Regions from separate parts of the Homo sapiens genome. Here region 1 is linked to region 2. The links come from fine-mapping of genetic effects on gene expression. Tissue or cell type: prefrontal cortex. Region 2 holds a variant in brackets; the other region holds the start of a gene. All regions are shown on one strand. Distances are between the middles of the regions.

What was found. PIP is the estimated chance that this variant, and not a neighbour inherited with it, causes the effect.
Region 1: it holds the start of PGS1, and the variant in region 2 is fine-mapped to the expression of PGS1 in prefrontal cortex (ROSMAP, PIP 0.95).

The regions. Positions count from the first base shown.
Region 1 is chr17:78,374,540-78,382,619 of GRCh38, reverse strand. It overlaps PGS1 (phosphatidylglycerophosphate synthase 1), which reads right to left and starts at 3,971. Exons shown (of 10, transcript NM_024419.5): 1 at 3,812-3,971. The coding sequence starts at 3,954. RefSeq lists a silencer at 3,686-3,925 and an enhancer at 3,121-4,082.
Region 2 is chr17:78,419,660-78,427,725 of GRCh38, reverse strand. PGS1 (phosphatidylglycerophosphate synthase 1) reads right to left here. Exons shown (of 10, transcript NM_024419.5): 9 at 8,051-8,066; 10 at 3,067-3,665. The coding sequence ends at 8,061. It overlaps DNAH17 (dynein axonemal heavy chain 17), which reads left to right. Exons shown (of 81, transcript NM_173628.4): 78 at 618-800; 79 at 1,126-1,269; 80 at 2,155-2,380; 81 at 3,573-4,029. The coding sequence ends at 3,820. Among named protein-coding and RNA genes, the nearest start is that of PGS1, 45 kb to the right of the region's middle. RefSeq lists enhancers at 802-1,302, 1,303-1,803, 4,597-5,176, 7,450-8,066. The variant G/C (reference allele first, on the strand shown) is at 4,451.

The DNA of each region.
Region 1 (8,080 bases), 45 kb after region 2:
ATGACTCAAAAAAACCCTATCTGAAGCATCTGTCTCCCTCTCCTGAGCTCCAGTTCTGCCACAGTCAACTGGACACTGAACACATCACCTAGAGGAACCTGGATACTGATTAACATAACCCAAATGCACTTTACCATCATCCCCAAAACCTGAGCCTCTTCTTTACTCCGTTTTCGTGAAATGTACCAACATCCATGTGCCCCATCAAGACTGATTCTCACTCAGCCCTCTTTTCTGCTCCCACTGCCCCGACTTCATATAAAAGCCCCCACCATCTCAGGCTGAACCAGAATCAAAAGAAATCATACATGGAATCTCAGAACTTGTCTTCCTGGGTCTCTGGCCCAGACTGGCTTGCTCCTAGCTCCTCTTCTTCCCTCCCTCCATCCCCTACTCGGTACCCCTAGTCAGCTCCTGGAAATGGTTTCAGTATTGGTGGGACCTCAGAATTGCCTTTCGCTGCAGTCCATGTCACTATCACTTCTTGAACATCCACTCCCCCTCTTCTTCACCGAGCCTAACTACTCCGACCCCTCCTTCAAAACAGCTCTGAGCCACTGCACCAGGAAGCCTTCCATGACCTCTCCAAGGTACTGCCATGACCTTCTACCTACTTCTTGTAATTGTTTATGGGTCTGAGCGTCTTGGAGGTGGGGCTGTGTCTTTATCTTTGCTTCCTGAGTACCTAGCACAGCACAGCAGTGCTCAATACACACATGATGAATAAATTAACGGATCCAGCAGTTCCTAATGATAATGAGTCAGATGCTAGCTTAAGAGGAAATGACAGTGCTTCTAAATCATTAACAGAAGTAATTTTAAGTAGAGTTCTCTGTCTCTCTGGCTGTCTCTATGCCTGAAAGGAAACCGCGGCAGTAAAAGGAACGTCCCCTCACGAGGGTTCACTGGCCCTCCAACAGCTGACTCAGATCGACAAGCTAAAACCTAAAATAATTCAAGCTCATGACTGCACAGAACTATTATCAATGAATCAATGATCAGCGAGTTACAAGAAACCACATCATTCGGGGAATGAGAAATTGGGAGGTGCAACTGAATAATGGAGAAGAAAGCAAAGTCAGCAGCTAATAAAGGGTAAGCAGCCACAACAAACATGAATAACTCGAACACCAAGGCCACAACGAATCAGAAAAGAACTGCAAACCGAATAAGGCAAAGAAAGGCTCAGAAACCTACACTACCACTCAATACCGGTCAAAGCATTTATCCTCAGTCCTACCATAGGCATTATTTCCGAGGATTACAAAGCAAAAACTTCTGTCTTAATGCCCAAGAAACTGAGTTGCTGGTTGAACTGTTGTCCCAGAGAAACAATCATCTCTCTCAGCTTAATGAAGGATGAAGGCACACAAACTGCATCCACTCACACAATTTACAAAAAAAAGAGATTAGAAAGTCAATTTAGACTATCTCCACTGCCACACTGCCCCTCCCACCACCAAAAAACAAAAAAGTGGCTGGGCGCAGTGGCTCACACCTGTAATCCCAGCACTGTGGGAGGCCGAGGTGGGCAGGTTACAAGGTCAGGAGATCGAGGCCAGCCTGGCCAACATGGTGAAACCCTGTCTCTACTAAAGATACAAAAATTAGCCGGACGTGGTGGCATGTGTCTGTAGACCCAGCTACTCTGGAGGCTGAGGCAGGAGAATCACTTGAACCCACGAGGTAGAGGTTGCACTGAGCCGAGATCAGACCACTGCACTCCAGCCTGAGTGACAGAACAAGACTCTGTCTCAAAAAAAAAAAGAAAAAGAAAAAGAAAAAAAGCACACTCATGAGAGATTTCTTTTTTAAAATATTTGTGTCAACTGCCCCAACATCCTTTAGTAATCAATTCCAATGTTGAACAATGATTTATAATGAAGTGTTTTTCATATAGTTTAAACATATAGAGGGAAATGACAAAGTCACCTAAATCTTGTCTTCAAGGGTAGAACATTTTTTTGAAACTGTAAACCAAATCTCAGTGGTTTGATGCCAGGACGTAGAAGTCATCTGACTTCGTCACCCAGAGATGAGCAGGTCTTTTGTTAAACACTGAAAAAATGAAAATGCAAAAAATGCAGAGGCCATTTCTTTTACAGCCCCAGTCCTGCTGGGTTCACCAACGTGAAACCTAGCAGGTTTCCAAGAGCGCCATCCTGCCCTGATTCTATCACCTAAAAATTCCCCTAAATCAAACTTGAGTTTTCGATGAAAATCTTCCACCATAGATCACCATGAAGCAAGCTCTTTTCTGTACCTAGAATCAGTACACATGACTGGACCCCAGATCTCTGTACTAGATGTCTGACCCCAGGAGGTCAAATCTCACCCGAGGAGTACACGTACAGATAGAAAATCTAACACAATGCAACCTCAACTAAAGGAAGCAGTTCTAAGATTTTTTTTTTTAAAGATCAAGTGTAAGACTCAATTAAGAAACCTATTTGCAGCCGGGCACGGTGGCTCACGCCTGTAATCCCAGCACTTTGGGAGGCCGAGGCAGGTGGATCAACTGAGGCTGGGAGTTAGAGACCAGCCTGACCAACATGGAAAAACCCTGTCTCTACTAAAAATACAAAATTAGCCGGGTGTGGTGGCTTATGTCTGTAATCCCAGCTACTCGGGAGGCTGAGGCAGGAGAATCGCTTGAACCTGGAAGGTGGAGATTGAGGTGAGCCAAGATTGCGCCATTGCACTCCAGTCTGGGCAACGAGTGAAACTCCGTCTCAAAAAAAAAAGAAAAGAAAAGAAAACTATTTGCACACAAGAGAATTTTTTTTTTTTGAAACAGAGTTTTGCTCTTGTTGCCTAGGCTGGAGTGCAATGAGGCAATCTTGGCTCACTGCAAACTCCACCTCCTGGGTTCAAGCGATTCTCCTGCCTCAGGGTCAGCCTCCCAAGTAGCTGGGATTACAGCCATGCACCACCATGCCCAGCTAATTTTGTATTTTTAGTAGAGACGGTTTCACCATGTTGGTCAGGCTGGTCTTAAACTCCTGACCTCAGGTGATCCACCTGCCTCGGCCTCCCAAAGTGCTGGAATTACAGGCGTGAGCCACCACACCCGGCCAAGAATTATTTATCCCCTTTTTTTTAATATTAGCAAGCCTCAGGTCAGCATGTTCTTGGCAAATGTTTATTTTAAAAGACCACTGCCTGAACAAATTGCTCCAAAGCCTACTTCATCATTTACATAACTTCAGTACTTTTCCAGAACACAGGCCCTTTGAAATGTGTAAAAAGTGTTTCGAGTGGCTCCTCTTCCCATGCCTGAGTGTTACTAAGGATTGCTTCACAGCTTTTTCTGGCAGGATGTGAGAAACGCTCTATACACAAAATCCCAGCAACGGTGATTCACTCACAGCCAGGCTTACCTAAGGAAAAGACCCCTCTGAACTCTCCGACACTCACATCCTGGGGCCGAAACCATGATATAAACAGCCTCTGGAGCTTGACCGAAGCTCCCTGAACGCACACACAGTCCCTCTTTTAACGTGTAAGTGCACGGTGGCCGGGGCTCGCCAACAAGCACGGTGTAGACGGGGAGCAAGGACTGGCCGGGCTGCGCAGGAGGCCCGCCGGCTGGACCCGGCCGATAATGGAGCACGAGCCGCCCACCCTCCCTCAAGAAGGCCAGTGAAGAAGCACATAGGTCAGGCGCCGAGCCCCGGGAGGCAGAAATGGGCCCGGAAACCGGGGAGGGACTCGCTGCGGATGCCCAGGACGCTGGGGCCGGGAGTTTGAGCGCCGGGGGGCCGGGCTGCAGCCGCGAGGGCTGCACTCTCATCCCGGCCGCCCCTCTCACCTCCTGCGCTGGCGGTCCCGGTTCCTGCCGAGGCGGTCGGACAGGCGTCCCAGGAGCGCGGCCAGCCCTGGGCGGCCAGGCAGGAGGCCCAGCAGTCGCCTCCAGAACACGGGTCCCGCCGCAGCTGCCGCCGCCACCGCCATGGAGACTCGCCGCTTCCGCTTCCGCTCCCGGCGGGCGCGAACTTTATTGACAAAGGCGAGCGCGGACACGGCTCAGGCGCGCAGGCGCGGAACCCCTGGCTCGGGGAGGGCGGCGCTGCACCGCCCCCAAGCCTCAGTTTCCCCTCTGGGGGACACAGGCGAGGAACAGTGGTCGCGCCGCAGGAGGGGGTCGGAAGCCGGCCCGTTAAATCCGTAAGGGCGCCAGGTGGCCTGCATTCCTGCAGTCACTCGTCACAGGTCGCGGAGGAAAGGATGCGGCGCAGGGGCTCTAGCACCGTCACGCTTGGCTCCAACTCACCAGCTGTCAAAAAAGCTTTTGTTTGTTTGTTTTGAGACAGAGTCTCGGTCTGTGTCCCAGGCTGGAGTGCAGTGGCGCGATCTTGGCGCATTGCAGCCTCGACCTCCCGGCCTCAGGGGATCCTCTCAAAGTGCTGGGACCACTCCCAAAGTGCTGGGACCACCAAAGTGCGTGTGCCACCATGCCCGGCTAATTCTTTACTTTTTTGTCGAGATGGGGGTCTCACTACGTTGCCCAGGCCGGTCTCGAGCTCCTGGGCTCAAGAGATCATCCAGCCTCAGCCTCCCAAAGTGTTGCCATTACAGACATGAGCCACCGAGCCTGACCACTGGCTGTCAAGATTGACTCCTCGGCCGGCGCAGTGGCTCACGCCTGTAATCCCTGCACTCTGGGAGGCAGAGGCGGGTGGATCACCTGAAGTCAGGAGTTCGAGACCAGCCTGGCCAACCTGATGAAACCCCGTCTCTACTAAAAATGCAAAAAATTAGCTGGGCGCAGTGGCCCATGCCTGTAATCCCAAACTACTCAGGAGGCTGAGGCAGGATAATCGCTTGAACCCAGGAGGTGGAGGTTGCAGTGAGCCAAGATCGAACCACTGTACTCCAGCCTGGGCAACAAGAGCAAAACTCCGTCAAAAAAAAAAAAAAAAAAAAAAAAAAAGGACTTCTCACTGATAAGTGAGGGAATTACTGTTTGAGGCTCTAATTGATAGGGTGTTCTTTAGACTTGTACAACACCCCTAAGGTGTTAAACTTGAACAAAGTCTGTTCTTGTACAAAGTCTTGTAACCTGGTTAACGCTGACTCACTAAGGTGCACAGAACCACGGAAAATCCCCACCAGACTGAGAGAGGAATCATTTTTCACCCTGTTAGCCCCAGAGGCTGCAGCTCCATGGCACAGAACAGCCTAAGCAAATCTGTGTGAGATGAACAGTCTTCCACCCTCCTGATATGCCCAAGTACACAGATATCACTGGCCCCTGGCAACACACAGTTCTATGCCCAAAAAGCTGACGGAGCACATCCTCATACACCAAGAACACTTTTTTTTTTTTTTTTTTTTTGAGGCAGGGTTTCACTCTTGTCACCCAGGCTGGAGTGCAATGGCGCAATCTTGGCTCACTGCAACCTCTGCCTCCTGGGATCAAGAGATTTTCCTGTCTCAGCCTCCGGAATAGCTGGGATTACAGGCGTGCGCCACCACGCCTGGCTAATTTTTGTATTTTTAGTAGAGACAGGGTTTCACCGTGTTGGCCAGGCTGGTCTCAAACTCCTGACCTCAAGTGATCCACCCAACTCGGCCTTCCAAAGTGCTGGGATTACAGGCGTGAGCCACCGCGCCCGGCCCAAGAACACTTTTTGCAGCTAATTTTAAAATGGAAAACTTTGTGGCATTCTGAAAGGCAGGAGAGGTGATCTCTGATCTGTAATATGCAGCTCCCTGGCTGACCCACATAGGCTGGGACCTGGAAACTGGAAAAGCTGTAGGACATAATCATAGTCTGCCGTGTTGTGAGGTTAAAATGATATGGACACGTGGGCCGGGCGCAGTGGCTCACACCTGTAATCCCAGCACTTTGGGAGGCCGAGGCGGGCGGATCATCTGAGGTCGGGAGTTCGAGACCAGCCTCACCAACATGGAGAAACCCTGTCTCTACTAAAAATACAAAATTAGACGGGCATGGTGGCACATGCCTGTAATCCTAGCTACTCAGGAAGGCTGAGGCAGGAGAATCGCTTGAACCCGGGAGGCGGAGGTTGCAGTGAGTCGAGATCGCGCCATTGCACTCCAGCCTGGGCAACAAGAGCGAAACTCAGTCTCAAAAAAAAAAGATATGGACACACTGAAAAAAACACTCCAAAGTCCACTTCCACAGATTATGCAGGGAAATCAACTACACATTCCCACAAGAATGTTCATCTCAGCCTTGTTCATGATATCGGAAGTGTGGAAGCAAATCTTCAGGGTAGGGGGGTTGGTTAAATAATGATACATCGGTATGTTGGAAGACCACACAATCATAAAAATAACATGTTCTGGAAGAATATTTAATGACATTAAGTGTAAAAGCCAAATTACCAAGGAGTAGCGTAGAGACCATCTCATTTCATTAAAGGAGAGGAAGAAAGAGGAAATGCGTGTATGTACACAGAAAGACTGAAAGTAAATACCCCCAAATGTTAATGTTGGTTATTTGGTGCCATTAAGGAGTTTCCAAATTGTTGACAATCAACAAGTATTTCAGATTGGCTTAAAGTTTTCTTTTGCGTTTAGATAGCTTTACTAATACTACATGGAATTTGATTCAACCCTTCCAAGTTAGAAATGGTGAATCATCAAATTTCCTAACTTCCAGTAACTAGAATGAGGCCATCCATTGCATGGTTCCACTTTTGCACTGTTCCTGGCCCACGGTTGTTGCAGAGTAAACACTTGCTGTATGGCTACACCGTCATGCTCAGCGGTGAGCGCCACATGGGCTATGGGAGCCTGGTTATCATCCTAGAAGGAGCTGGCAGCTTTTCTGCATGGGTGCTTTGCTGTGCGAGGTACTGAGACAAACAGCCATGGTACAGGCTCACTGGGAATTCCCAACCTTAAAGAAATGCTAGCAACAGACAGCAATATTGATAGCATGGTAAGTCACACTAATAAGTATTTACCCTAAGGATAACATCAAGGAATGACCCAGTCCCTTCTGAAACCACACATCGAGAGCCTCTGGCCTTCATGGCTAGTTTAAAACAGACAGAGCTATCACCAGAGTGAGGCAACCACGACTTTGCTGGGGACACATACATTTTGAGGTTGCAAAAATGTTAAATAATGGTTTTCAGAGATTGTGCAATTTTTAAATGATTCCATTTACAGGATGACAGCACATGCATTGTTCGTGTCAGGAGGTCTCATCTGGGCTAGTTACTGAAAACAAGTAGAGGAGATAAGACCCTCCCAGACAACAAAGGTGACCCAGAGAGCCTGCCTGGGAGCACTCAGGGTGTCCCAAAGCTGCGTGGCCGGCTCTCAATCTGGGTCAGACACTACTGCTGTGGATGGGGTTTCTGGATGCCCATCTCAATGACTGCGGGCGAGAAGACATCTGTCCTCTGAGTCCCCCTCGCCCTCCTGCCCTCACCCACTGCCTTCTCGTTAGTCGCACTCGCTCCTTCCCAGACAGGAGGTGCCAGGGTTAGAAAGACAGGGTCGACGGGATTGACGGCAGATCCCATGTCTTCCCAAACGGAAAAGGAAACCCATTCATTGGAGGGAGAGTTGACGTCAAGGAGTGGTGGGCTGCTGCCCCTGAGAGTGGGGCAGCTCTCCCAGGCAGGAAACACCAGGAAATCCTGAGCCAACAGCCCATGCCTCACTGCCTGTGATTCACTCCCTCAACCGAAAATCACAGTAACACAAGAGGAAGGCCCCTCCTCCTCTAGCTTGCTTGCCTAGAGAGGGTCTCTCCCAAACACAGGGCTGTTAGCAAATTCCAAAGGGAGGAAGTGGCTGTCCGGCCCACCTTCTGCCTCCAGAGATGAGAAACTGTCCCGAGGGGCTGTTCAGCTGTTTGTGAGGAGCCTGTTCTTTGTTAAAAGGAATGCAGCCTGCTTGCTGGAGATGGGATGAAACTGTAACTGCCCAATGGGTTCACCTTGCCTGCTGCCCAGACAGAACTGATTTATCAAGACAGAGGCATTGCAATGGAGAAAGAGTGATTCACGCAGAGCCCACTGTGCGGGAGACCAGAGTTTTATTATTACTCAAATCAGTCTCCCCAAGCATTCGGGGATCAGAGTTTTTAAAGAGA
Region 2 (8,066 bases):
TGCTGGGGTTACAGGCGTGAGCCACTGTACCTGGCCTGTACTTCTTAATAGAATGTGGAAAGGCTCTATTACGTACTAGCTAAGTACAGGACTTCCCGGTAAAGACTGAATTCTTGATGTGAGACCCTTATTCCTATTAGGTCCAGGACTTTCTCTTAGTCTAATGACTGAAATCAGGAATTGGCTGACAGACGGTGGTGCAGGTGACCACTGCACTGTGTGGGCCACTCCTTAACAGGGTGTGACCAGCATGGTCCCTACAGAAAGCCCACGTAAAGGACAAAGTCGCAATCCCTCAACCGCTGGCTACATTTGACCAGAGGCTGGTGCGTGGGAATGAACAAATGAGGCACCGAGCCAGGTGGCCTGATGCGCTCATGGCCGCGGCTGCAGGGACTTGTAGTGAGATCAGAATGCTCGGAGCCGCTGGCCAAGGCTCCCTCTCCTCATCAAATGTGTGGCTGCACCCATGACCCTGCATTTCTGGCAACTCTACTTGCCTCTTCCCTCCTCTCCAGGACTTGGGGCTGGGAACATTTTGGGCAGGCTCCCTGACCCTGCAGTGGGTGGGGTGGGCTCTTTGCAGTGACAGGGGCTGTCCGGGGACTGGCTTCCAGGTGAAGGCCGTGCTGGACGACATCCTGGAGAAGATTCCGGAGACTTTCAACATGGCTGAGATCATGGCAAAGGCAGCGGAAAAGACCCCCTACGTGGTAGTCGCCTTTCAAGAATGTGAAAGAATGAACATCCTGACCAACGAAATGCGCCGTTCGCTCAAGGAGCTGAACCTGGGGCTGAAGGTAAACATGGGTCAGCCCGGCCCCAGGGACGTGGCTGGATGGTGAAACCAGCAGAAACCCAGGCCTCTGGCAACCCAGGCCTAGCACAGGCCCCGGATCAGCATGGTACTGCTCCCTCTCCAGAGCTCTGGCAGTTCCAGAACAAGCCCCGGGAGCTCATCTAGACCGTTCCTTAGCAGGAAGCGCTTGCGTGGCCCTGATGCAGGGCGTCTCCAGAGGCGCAGCACAAAGCCACACTGTGTTGACAACTCATGACACGCACTGGGGCTGGTGCTCTCCCAGGCCCCAGCTCAGGGCTCCCCACACCCATCTGTGTGTCTCCTAGGGAGAACTGACCATCACGACCGACGTGGAAGATCTGTCCACGGCTCTCTTCTATGACACCGTGCCTGATACGTGGGTGGCCCGGGCCTACCCCTCCATGATGGGCCTGGCGGCCTGGTACGCAGACCTGCTGCTCCGCATCAGGGTAAGTGCCGTTTTCTCTGAGAGGCTTCCTAAGACTCGGGGACCGAGTGCCCAGAGCTCGGCACACCCCACACCCTAGAGCCTGCAGGAGCATGGCCAGGAGGCTCCTGGGGGCCTGTCCTCTGTCAGATCAGGGCCAGAAGGGCCTAGCCCATGCCCCTCCCACACCCTGACAGTGCAGCCATTTCCTCCCAAAGGAGGAAAACAAGCCAGGCCGCAGAGCAGCTTCCATCAGCTCCTCCTCAAGCGACCCTCAAAGGGTAAGCCGTCCTCTATAAGGAGCGAGGCAATGAAGGCAAGAGCCTCTTTGGGCTCCTAAATTATCCACAAACAGGAAGCCATTTTCTTCCTGACCCTTCTCTACCTGTTCCCTTGTTTAAAATGGAGCAAACAGCAGCTGGACACGGTGGTTCACACCTGTAATCCCAGCACTTTGGGAGACCAAGGCAGGCAGATCACTTGAAGCCAGGAGTTCGAGACCAGCCTGGCCAACATGGCGAAACCCCATCTCTAAAAATACAAAAATAAGCTGGGCATGGTGGCCTGCACCTGTAATCCCAGCTACTCTGGAAGCTGAGGCAGGAGAATTGCTTGAACCCGGGAGGCGGAGGTTGCGTTGAGCCAAGATTGCACCACTGCACTCCAGCCTGGGTGACAGAGCGATACTTCATCTCAAAAAAAAAAAAAAAAAAAAAAAAAAAGCAGACACCAAAGTTGCGTCATGGTAGGTGGCTGGGCTCCATGGCCCCTACTCTGTCCAGCACTTCTAGCTCGCTGAGTGGCCCGTGGAAGGTTCTGGCGTGACCCCTGCTCAGAACGGCCAAGGCCCGGTCGTTCCCATGTCATTCTATGTCCTCTCCTCCTAGCGGCTCGTGTGTCCTTGCAGGAACTCGAGGCCTGGACGACAGACTTTGCCCTGCCCACCACCGTGTGGCTGGCCGGCTTCTTCAACCCCCAGTCGTTCCTCACGGCCATCATGCAGTCCATGGCCAGGAAGAACGAGTGGCCCCTGGACAAGATGTGTCTGTCTGTCGAGGTGACCAAGAAAAACCGAGAGGACATGACCGCTCCTCCGCGAGAGGGCTCCTACGTGTACGGACTCTTCATGGAAGGTAAGGAGGGCTCTTGTCTGTCTGCAGAAGCTTCCAGAGCCAGTGCTACTTGCCAAGACAAGATAAAACTAGCTCTTGGCAAAGACAGGCTGTTCAAGAGCTGTGGGGACAGGCAGGAGAGAGGTGCTCTCAGGGGGCATCAGCCTGCAGGTCAGAGCCACGCTGACCCTAGAGAGGGTTGAGAGGATTCAGGGAATGTGCAGGGTCTGGAGGAGACCAAAAACACCCCAGTCACCTGGCCTCTGCTTTAATGAAAACAGCAGAGCTTGTGAGAGAGCAGCTCCGACGTGATGAAAAGCGCTGAAAAGCCCAGGCTTTCCCTGCCACGGAGCAGTCAGCCCAGGGCAGAAGTGCGTTTTGTGGCTGCACTGAGACTCCAGGTCATGCTGGCTGGCCCAGTCTCACCCACTCCCCAGCTGCTGCCACTCCTGGAACACAGGGTTCAAGGGAAAAGAGGCTGGGGCACCTGTTAGAAGTCCGCCCCCACATCACCCCTGTCCTGCTACACAGAAGAGGTCAGCCAGGACACCGAGGCCGGCCATCTTCTCAGCCCGCCTCTGAGTTGAGCAGCAATGCCACCACCACATACCTGTCCCCTTCAACAGCTGACGTCACCCCATTACCTGTGGGGTGGCAGGGTTGGGCCAGCAACGGCTCAGGCACCCCATTTCCCACACAACCAAAGATAAGCTCTCCATGTTTGTTTATTTTGAGATTTCAGACAGGAAATAAAAACACCATTAAATAGGGCGAGTAGAAATAATAGCAGTCTGGTTAAAGGCAATATTTATATGCACAGATGTATAATTATATTGTGTATGTACACATAGGGCAGACATTACACATTAAGAATCAGGGAACTTTACTCTGTAATTTTTAGCTGGAGTTATGACTTCCTGCCACTGACATTAAGGCTGACAGATGAGGCTCTGAAAATGCCACAGATTTAAACGGATGGAACCCGAGGGCTTTAGCTGAGCTGTTCCTTGAGCCCAGCGGGACGGGGTAGTTACAACATGCAGGCCATCACCTACGAAGGCCTCTGCTTCCAGCCGTGGCAGCTGGCCTGAAGCCTTTTGGGGTAGAGCCCAGCTCTGCAGAGGGCGGGGAGTGTGAGGACCCCACCCTTCCTGCCAGCCCCTCCCTCACTTACTGGCAGCACACCTGACCCTCAGCCATACTGTCCCTGCAGGGGCTCGCTGGGACACCCAGACTGGAGTCATCGCTGAAGCGCGGCTGAAAGAGCTGACCCCGGCCATGCCTGTCATCTTCATCAAGGCCATTCCTGTGGACCGCATGGAGACCAAGAACATCTATGAGTGTCCCGTGTACAAAACACGCATCCGCGGCCCCACCTATGTCTGGACCTTTAACTTGAAGACCAAAGAGAAGGCAGCGAAGTGGATCCTGGCAGCCGTGGCGCTGCTCCTACAGGTTTAGCTCGCTCCTGCCTCACAGCCCACACTCCCTGGGGCTGGACCACAACTCAGCCCTTCACCTGTGCACCTGTGACTTATTCTTTACAGGAACTGGTGGTGGTTTTTCGTTCTCTTAAATAATCAGGTGCTTTGTAACCAAGCACATCGGAACCAGAGGGTGGAGGTTGGTGTGGAAGAGGTGGGGCAGATTAAAGCCAGTGGAGCCACTCAGCTGTGCCCATCCATTCTGTGCCTGATGGCCACTGTGAGGCCTGGTTCAGGCTTTGGGGAAAGGCCCCAATTCCCAGCAGCCAGAGGCAAGCATTCCAGGAAGTAAATCCCAAATCCTGACTTCCCGGGGGGGTCAGTGGAGTTTGCTTTTAACAGGAGCAGCATGTGGGGTGAGGGCTTGGCACTCACACCCTCTGGCCTGATGCTTCATGCAAACCACCTGCCAATGAGGGGACAGGGCGTTACCCCATACCAGGAGCTGCCGCCTCCACACAGCGTCTCATCCGCCATTACTCCCTGCTCCCAAAAACAACAGGACCTTTTACAAGTAAGGAAACACACCCAAGCCCCCGCCCCCAGAGTCTAGAAGAACAAGCCGTTCCCACAAGCAAGCCCCGGACCTGTAGGACTCTGTGGCTGG[G/C]CTGATGCAGGACACGGCAGTGAGGTGGCCAGGCTAGCTAGGGCAGCAGGGTGCAGGCACGAGGGGAGAGAATTAACTAGCAACCTGGGGGATGAGGGGAGACAGCGGCAAACGTCAGAAAAGACGGATCCCAGGGGGACCAAGACAGGATCAACATTTTTTTTTTTTTTCGAGGGAGAGTGAGAGTTTCACTCTTGTCGCCCAGGCTGGAGTGCAATGACGCAATCTCGGCTCACGTTGCAACCTCCACCTCCTGGGCTCAAGCGATTCTCCTGCCTCAACCTCCCAAGTAGCTGGGGTTACAGGCACCCACCACCACACGCAGCTAATTTTTTTATTTTTAGTAGAGATGGGGTTTCACCATGTTGGCCAGGCTGGTCTCAAACTTCTAACCTCAGGTGATTCACCAACCTCGGCCTCCCAAAGCGCCAGGATTACAGGTGTCAACCACTGTGCCCGGCCCTCAACATTTCTCAGGCTTCAAAGAAAAGCAGGCCGCTGCAGCAGCTCACGCCTCTAATCCCAGGACGGCAATCTTACTTGAGCCCAGGAGTTTAAGACCAGCCTGGGCAACGTGGCAAAACCATCTCTATCAATCAAAAATACAAAAAATTAGCTGGGAATGTTGTATGTGCCTGTGGTCCCAGCTACTCAGGAGGCTGAGGCAGGAGGGTCGCTTGAGCCCATGAGGTCAAGTACGCAGCGAGGCATGATCATGCCACTCACTCCAGCCTGGGTGACAGAGTGAGACCCTGTCTCAAAAGGGGGAAAAAAGGCAAACACACCCATTAGGAATATCGTTCTACGTTCAGCTTGATCATCAAGTTTTGCAAAAACATTTTTCCAAGTTTACTCACCTAAATCATGGGTTAAGAAGCATCTAGAAAGTCCAAATTCTGAGGGTAATGATTCACAACAATCTTAGCGCCCAGTAGGGCTATCGGAGGGAAAAGAAAAATCCTCCCCTCCTGGCGCCCAAGGAATCCAGCCCTTTGTGGCTGCAGAGAAGGGAAGCAGTTTCAGCCTCCCCCAGCCTGGCTGGGCCAATACCTCTGCTGGCCAGGAGGGGTCACTGCAGCCCTTCAGGTGACCAGGGGAGCTAAAGCCACCAGGGGCCACCGGGCAACTCACTTCAGTCCCTGGTAATAACCACAAAATGTGACGTTTTTCCATTTTGCCTTTAGATCCTGAAATAAGAAAGTAATCTAGTCCACACATACATATTGTGGGTAGTTGACAAAATTATCTCTAAACTTTCCAAGAAATGATTCGCACTTAAGCTGCACTCCAGCGACGGGGAACACAGGGACTGGAACACGACAGCCCCGCGCACCTAGAAAGCCGGGAGGACTGCGGCGGCCGCCGCCCGCCGCCCGCTGCTCTCTGTTGCTCCGGCTGCTTTGCAGAGTTAGGGAGGCTTGGTGTGGGGAGCTCCTCAGGGAGAACCTGCCTAGGACAGCCTCGAAGGTCATCAGCAGAGACAGAGGGAGCAGTGTGCGCTGCGGGAACGGCACTGCAGATAGATTGCTTAAGCCTGGCTGTGGCATAATGATATTTACTCTGGTCCCACAGAATCTGGAGGAATGCGAACTCTGTTTACCGAGAGCCTCTCTCCAAACAGAAACCCAGTGCCCCTGCACATTCCTTTGGCTCCTCCAGTCTAATTGTCCCACAGGACACCGTAATAACTAGTTGGAAGGCAAACAGTGTTAACTGATGTGATGTGCTGCTGTCCAGGGCACTGTGGCCAGGCCGCCGCTCCACCTATCCCCAGCCACTCAAACTGCAGGTCTGCCTGGTGCGGAAGCTGCAACTGTCCTTGTCTAAGACCAGGTGAGCCTATGCAACCTTTCAGACCCCATGAAGGGTGACAGTGACTCCTGCCAGCCCTCGGGAGGGAAAGGCGAGAAGCTGCTTCTAGAGAGGCAAAGTGCAGGGACTAAATCTAATCTCACTCCCCGAAAGGACAGGCTGCCATGCCCTGTAGCCCAGGAAGCTTCTCTCTGTGCAAGGGTCAAGCACCTGAAGATGATAAAGAGATCAGGCAGTGAGGTCACAAAAGCAGCTCCTGGAGACACTGGGGGATATGGAGAGCTGGCTTTATAAACACACATGACATGTATTCAAAATCCCCTGCTACTAGGTGACACAAAAATGTTTTAAGTAGATCCAATAAAAATAAAGTTCATTCTTCAAAAAATAAATTGCTAGGGAAAAAACAATCACAAGGTGTAGTCCTTAATTGGACTTCAAGTCAAATAATCGAAAAAATTAATTTTAAGGCAAGTGGAATTGTGAACACCATTTAGGTATTTGATGATACTAAGACATTCTTGGTAATTTTTGTTTCAGGAGTGACACTGGTGCTGTTTTGGTTAAGTACACATTTTGGGGGAAGACAGCAGGATATGCACGTTATTTAGAAATACGGACACGTGTGCACATCAGAAGAAACAAGCCAAGAGTGGCTGCCTGGGGGAAGGGAGGGCAGGAAATGGCCGCAGTATTGTTTTACTCTCTACATTTGCACACACTATTCAAATAAAATGAAAAGTAATTAAAATAACTAGGAAAAGCTGCAGATAAACTACACATTTTTAAACAATGAGACTTAGCAGAGCACTAAGGTGCCAGGCACTAAGGGAGCCCACGCTGCACACATGAGATGCCGGCACTAGCGCATGTGCCGGCCACATGGGTCCTGGCTCATCTTTGACTCCTCACCGTCCCTTCCCCACAAGCCACCATCCAAAGGCCCAGCCATCCAAAGCAACAGAACTACCCACAACATCCAGAACCAGAGAGCAGGGGCCTCGGGAGCCTGACCCCACCCGGAGTGCAGTCCAGGCCCTGAGGGATCCAGGACACAAAAGGTCACTCAGCAAAGACCCCACCTTTAATGGCAGCCACCCCCTGCCCGGACCTCTAGGCGTCAAGACAGTCCAGGGGTACCTCAGGTGACTGTGGGACCCCACTGGTGCCTCTGGTGAAGCGGCAGGCCCCTCCTGGGTGGGCAGAGCAGGTCCTGTTACTCAACTTCCAGAGTCTAGAAGGGCGCAGCTCTGTAACCGCAGCACAGGGATGTCAGCGAGGCGTCCAGGCAGCAGCCCACGGTCTGGCTCTACCGACGCCCCACCCTGTGCACTACAGCCGGCCAGGGCAGCAAGCCAGAGCCACTCTCACGAGCAAACGTGCTCCCCTCCTCCCACGTCTACATCTCCTGCACCAGTGTGCTCAGCTTGGAGGGGCTCAATCTGCCTTTCTGCCCCCTCATCCCTGAGCCCTTGCCCCAGGGCTTCTTCAGGACCCCCTGGGAAGGGAGAGCAGAAGGGGACTACAGGCTGCCACTGCCGACCCCAGCACAGGCGCCTTGGGACTTAGTGGAGTGGGTACCAGATGGAAAGTGAACAGACTGCCTAATTTAGCATCCAGCTTCTAACTTTGAGGACAGCTGCCATACCCCTGAAGATGCTGCTCTGTGTTTAACTGAGAAAGGGATCAAAGAGCCCTCTGGAAGCTCTGGTTGAGTCAGAACAACCACCTGCCCCACCTGTGAACTCTCGGGAAAATCGTGCTGAGAGGTGATGCTAGAGACAGCACCTGTCTGTCCTCAGAA